Linked DNA regions of Homo sapiens: region 1 is linked to region 2. A link means that fine-mapping ties the variant in region 2 to the expression of a gene that starts in the linked region. Tissue or cell type: whole blood. Region 2 holds a variant in brackets; the other region holds the start of a gene. All regions are shown on one strand. Distances are from middle to middle.

The links. PIP is the estimated chance that this variant, and not a neighbour inherited with it, causes the effect.
Region 1: it holds the start of QTGAL, and the variant in region 2 is fine-mapped to the expression of QTGAL in whole blood (TOPMed, PIP above 0.99).

What each region holds. Positions count from the first base shown.
Region 1 is chr17:83,050,082-83,052,761 of GRCh38, reverse strand. QTGAL (queuosine-tRNA galactosyltransferase) reads left to right here and starts at 992. Exons shown (of 13, transcript NM_001009905.3): 1 at 992-1,025. The coding sequence starts at 1,011. LOC124904094 reads right to left here and starts at 1,575. Exons shown (of 4, transcript XR_007065967.1): 1 at 1,517-1,575.
Region 2 is chr17:82,955,855-82,958,534 of GRCh38, reverse strand. It overlaps QTGAL (queuosine-tRNA galactosyltransferase), which reads left to right. Exons shown (of 13, transcript NM_001009905.3): 9 at 1,041-1,176; 10 at 1,286-1,354; 11 at 1,766-1,840. Among named protein-coding and RNA genes, the nearest start is that of QTGAL, 95 kb to the left of the region's middle. The variant A/G (reference allele first, on the strand shown) is at 1,533.

The DNA.
Region 1 (2,680 bases), 94 kb before region 2:
TCCTGGTGGGGTCAGGGCCTCACTCCTGGGCACCCCTCCTCCTGGGGGACCTCGCGGTGGGGTCAGGGCCTCACTCCCGGGCACCCCTCCTCCTGGGGGACCTCCTGGTGGGGTCAGGGTCTCACTCCTGGGCACCCCTCCTTCTGGGGGACCTCACGGTGGGGTGAGGGCCTCACTCCTGGGCACCCCTCCTCCTGGAGGACCTCCTGGTGGGGTCAGGGCCTCACTCCTGGGCACCCCTCCTCCTGGGGGACCTCGCGGTGGGGTCAGGGCCTCACTCCCGGGTACCCCTCCTCCTAGGGGAGCTAACCCCGGGCACCCCTCCTCCTGGGGGGACATCTCAGTGGGGTCAAGGCCTCAGGCCTGGGCACTTCTCCTGGGGGACCTCGCCCCGGGCACCCTTCCTCCTGGATGACACCCCGGTGGGGTCAGGGCCTCACCCCTCTCCTGGGGCCGTCAAGTGTCCTGCACGCCCTGCTCTCCCTACCGCGTCTGTCTGAAAGGACGCCCTGCAGTCCCCTCGTCCTCCCCGGTCAAGTAGCACAGCCCACAGCCCGGGTGAAATGCAACGACCTTTTACATATCAGCCTTGCTTGAGGCTTTACAGCAACTCCAGGCCGCCTGGCTTGGGTTTGCAGCGCGGCGCCCTCGCACAGCCCCGCCTTCCCCGCGGCGGCGTCTACGGGGGACCAGAGATTGTGACGCGCGCCCTAGGGGAGAGCAGGAGGCTTCCACGGGCCAAGGAGGCGGCTCCGAGAGGTGACCCGGGACCGGGGCGTGGCCCAGGGCGGAAGACTGAGGCGGCGACCTCCCGGCCCCGCCCCGCGCCGAGCAGCCCCGCCCCTTCCACGCCCCTCCGGGAGGCCCACCCCTATGGACGCCGCTCTGCACCAATCGGAGATTGCCTGGCCTCAGACCCGCCTCCTGGTGCCGCCCGCGCAGGCGCCGTAGGCCGAAGCGGCGGGATGAGCGGAGCCGGCGTGGGCGGGGCGTCCGAGGAGAGCCAGGCCATGCAGGCCCACGTGGTAGGTGCCAGCGGGGAGGGTGCCCCGCCGTGCAGGCTGGGTCCTCGCGTCCCCTCACCCCGCCCTCCAGTCCTCTCTCGCTCCGGGGTTCGCAGCCCCGCACCGCCTCTCGGGCTCACCTACGGGGTCTCCGCCCTGAGCAGCCCTTAGGCCCCGCGGGCGAGCGCGGCTGCGCGTGCGGGGGACGCTCGGGATTGGAGCCCGCGGGGCGCGGCCGAGATCTGCAGCTCCGGCTGCGCTTCCTGCCCCCGTCCCGCGAGCGTGGCCTCCTCACCGACCTTCCTCGTTCTGATTTTGAAGCTTCCGGGCTCGGAGCTCAGGCAGTTCCCCGTTCGCCCTCACCTGGTCGTGGGGTGGAGGAACGGCGCACCTGCCTCATCCCCGCCCGCCTGCCCCGCGCTCCTTCCCCGCGCCCGCACACCTGCCTCGCTCCCGCCTCGCTCCTGCGCACCTGCCCCGCCCCCGCGCACCTGCCCCCGCACCTCACACACCTGGTCCGCGCACCTGCGCATCTGCCTCGCTCTTACGCACCTGCCTTGCCCCTGCACGCCTGCCCTGCACACCTGCCCCGCCCCCGCACACCTGCCCCACACCCCACACACGTGCCCCGCGCTCCTGACTCGCCCCCGCGCACCTGCCGCGCGCACCTGCCTCGCTCCCGCACCCCACACACCTGGTCTGCACACCTCCCCGTGCCCCACACCTGCCTGCACACCTGTCCGTGTGCCCCCACACAACCTCGCACCCCACACGTCTGCCGTCACACATTCCCGGCACACTTGCCCATGCCCCACACACACGTCTTGTGCCTGCACACCTGCTTCACACACCTGCTCTGCGTCCTGCATACATGCCCGTGCCCCATACCTGCCCGTGCACCTGCCGTGCACACCTGCCTGCGCATCCCACACACCTACCTGCACACCTCCTCCGTGCCCACACACCTGCCTGTGTGCCCAGCACACTTACCCCAAACACGTGCCCTAAAAACCTGCCCTTAAGCCCCGAACACCTTCCCCGTGCTCCGGCAGAGGCTGGAGCAAAGGCCCTCAGGGTTCAGACCCAGCCAATAGGCCGATGCAGGGAACAACCACAGGGATGTAGGATTAGCAGTCGCCCAAAGGCTCAGCATGTTTTCTGTTTTTTGTTTTTTTGTTTGTTTTTTTTCCAGCCTTTTTTCTTTTTTATTCCAGTCTTACTAAAATTGGTAACAGGTGAATCAAGGTCTATCTTTGATAGAAACATTATATTTTGTAGATCTTGAGAAAAATTATTTCCTTCTTTTCCTCTAAGTAAATCCAAACTAAGGTAAATTTGTAAATAAATTAGGGAACTCGTTTTATTTTTTTTTTAATTTTTATTTTTTGAAATGGAGTTTCACACTCGTTGCCCAGGCTGGAGTACAATGGCGCGAGCTCGGCTCACCGCAACCTCTGCCTCCCGGGTTCAAGCGTTTCTCCTGCCTCAGCCTCCCGAGTAGCTGGGATTACAGGCATGCACCACCACACCAGGGTAATTTTGTATTTTTAGTAGGGACGGGGTTTCTCCATGTTGGTCAGGCTGGTCTTGAACTCCCGACATCAGATGATCTGCCCGCCTCGGCCTCCCAAACTGCTGTGATTACAGGCGTGAGCTACCGCGCCCGGCCAGAACTC
Region 2 (2,680 bases):
TCCCGGGAGGCGGAGGCAGCAGCAGAATCGTAGAACAGCGAAATCCTGCCCCGATCCCGAGGCTGAACCCACGAGGGCCCTGCTCAGGGGAGGCCCGTCACCAGCCAGTGTTGGTTGTGTCTGGCCCAGACCCCACCCCGGAGGAGACTCCCACGGACACAGCTCCCTTGACACAGCAGAGGGCATCCCAGGACTCGGCCAGGGCAGGGTCTGTGGGGTACCGGGCTTCAGCGTGGCTACATCGCGGCCATTGGGGAGGACAGCATCTGGGACACATCCCACGCCGTTCTGGCCCCGTTGGCCTCTGCATCCCCTGCCCCTCTAGCTTCTGGCCCGTCCAGCTCCTGGGGCTTTGAGACGGGCTCAGCCCGGGCAGCTCCAGGAGCAGGGTTGAGGGAGAGGCACACACAGGCAGACAGCGATGGGGCACGTGGGGAGGGGCTGCGGTGGGAGGAGAGAGGGCGGGGCTGGGAAGGGCCCGGGCAGCGATGGGGCTGGGCGCTGGGCAGAGCAGCAGGTCATGGGAAGGAGCCTGCTCCCCCCGGGACAGCAGCCTGGGGTCGACTTGTCACAGCAGAGGGAGAACAGAGACCAGGTTCCCAGGGGAGTGGAAGGGTTCGGGGCAGCGACCCTGAGGCAGAAGGTCGTGTCCAAGTGTGAACGCTGGGATTTTATGGGATGGTTGCATGTGTCCTTATGGACAAAGGTTTCTCTGGGAAACTGGACTTGGGTCAAGTCCAGTCCTCTGCGTCCTACAGAAATTCTGCCTTCCAGAACCTTCTAGATTCTTAAGTGACAGCTTCTCATCTGTCCCCACCTGTTGGGGTCTAATGGAAGGGGTGGATCCCCACCTAGGCATGTGGCTACGTCCAGCTGGGGCAGGTGGCCTGACTGTAGGACAGCCAGTCTCTCTTAGGCATTGGGCCAGGTGTCCACTCCACTGGCAACGTGAGCTGAGCACACATCATGTCCCTGTATGTCAGCATCTGTGTGCATCTGTGGGGCCTCCGGCCTGCCTATCACCCTCTTCTCCACCGCAGGACGACCATCTGGACCCACCGCGTCCGCTTCCTGGAAGAGCAGGCCCTGCCCCGCTGGGCGGCCTTCACCATCTGGAACGCTGGCAAGCAGGGGCGCCGGCTGTACCGCAGCTTGACTGCCGGCAGCCAGCGCAAGGTGAGCATCCTGCCACCCTCCAACACTGCCTGCCCTGCCCCCGTACTGTCCCACAGCACAGGCCCTGGCCCCGGCCTGTCCAGAGCTGCCCTTCTGTGCTTGTCCCCAGGTGGTGGCATTCTGTGACGTGGACGAGAACAAGATCAGGAAAGGCTTCTATTGCCACGAGGACTCTCAGGTGTGCAGGGCCGCATGGTGTCACCCTTGGGGTCAACCACCTGCTCCGGGGCTGAGGGACAGCTGCTCCGAGCCTTCCCCCTTGGCAGAGTCCACCTGGGCCGTGCTGGCTCCTCGGGGCCTCCAGGGAGCCCAGCCCCCATTCTTGGGGGGAGAACCCCGCTGTCCCTCGTGGGTCT[A/G]GGCCTTGGGGTAGCCCACCCTGGTCAGTTCTGCAGTCGGGTGTCAGGCGGGGGTGGCGGGAGCCGGGTTCCTGCTCTGAACACCTGCCGCAGTCTGTGACCCTGGCACGTTATCTGCTGCCCAAGCCCTGGCTCCTGTGTGAGCCAACTTGGTGGCTGCGTGCACCCTGAGGGCGTCTCTCCGGGGACAAGCTCCAGGCTCGGGCAGGACTGATGGCCACTGTCACTCTCAGGAAAGACCCAAGCCCCGAATCCCCATCCTGCACTTCCGAGCCGCCCGGCCACCCTTCGTCATCTGCGTGAAGCTGGTGAGTGTGGGGCCCTTGGCCGTGGAAGGGCTTGGGGATCCCGGGCTCTGCCACCTGGACAACCCGCCCTGCTGTGCAATGACTGTGTGGCCTGGGATGAGACCCCAGCCGATGGTGGGCATGGGGACAGGTGCCACAGCCGTCCACAACAGCACCACAGACCAGGCTGTGGGGTGGTGGCCGCTGCCCTGGGGGCAGGAGGCAGCTGGAGAGGGTGGCCTGCATGGGTGTGGGGGGGATGGATTCCGGTCTCTCTTCTGTCTTAAAATACCCATAAAGCCAACATTTGTTAGAAACTTGCAAAGCACGAGGCCCTGCGGTGCCATGTCTGAGGGGCCAAGGCCAGGACCTCCAGCTCCCGTGGACTGAGGTGGCTGCATCGGGGATGTCCTCAGCCCCTGAGTGTGAACGACCCTTGCCTGGGGTGGGCAGGTGATGGGTGCCTCGGGCTCCAAATGCAGCCTTTTTCCCCAAGCGTGGGGAGTCCAGGCTGGCTGCGGGGGGCTGAGGTGAGTAGTTTTTTTTTTTAATTTTACTTTAAGTTCTGGGATACATGTGCTGAACATGAAGATTTGTTACATAGGTTTACATGTGCCATGGTGGTTTGCTGCACCTATCAACCCGCCATGTAGGTTTTAAGCCCCGCATGCATTAGGTGTTTGTCCTAATGCCCTCCCTCCCCTTGCCCCCCACCCTCCAACAGGTCCCAGTGTGTGATGTTTCCCTCCCTGTGTCCATGTGTTCTCACTGTTCAACTCCCACTTATGAGTGAGAACATGCGGTGTTTGGTTTTCTGTTCCTGTGTTAGTTTGCTGAGGATGATGGTTTCCAGCTTCATCC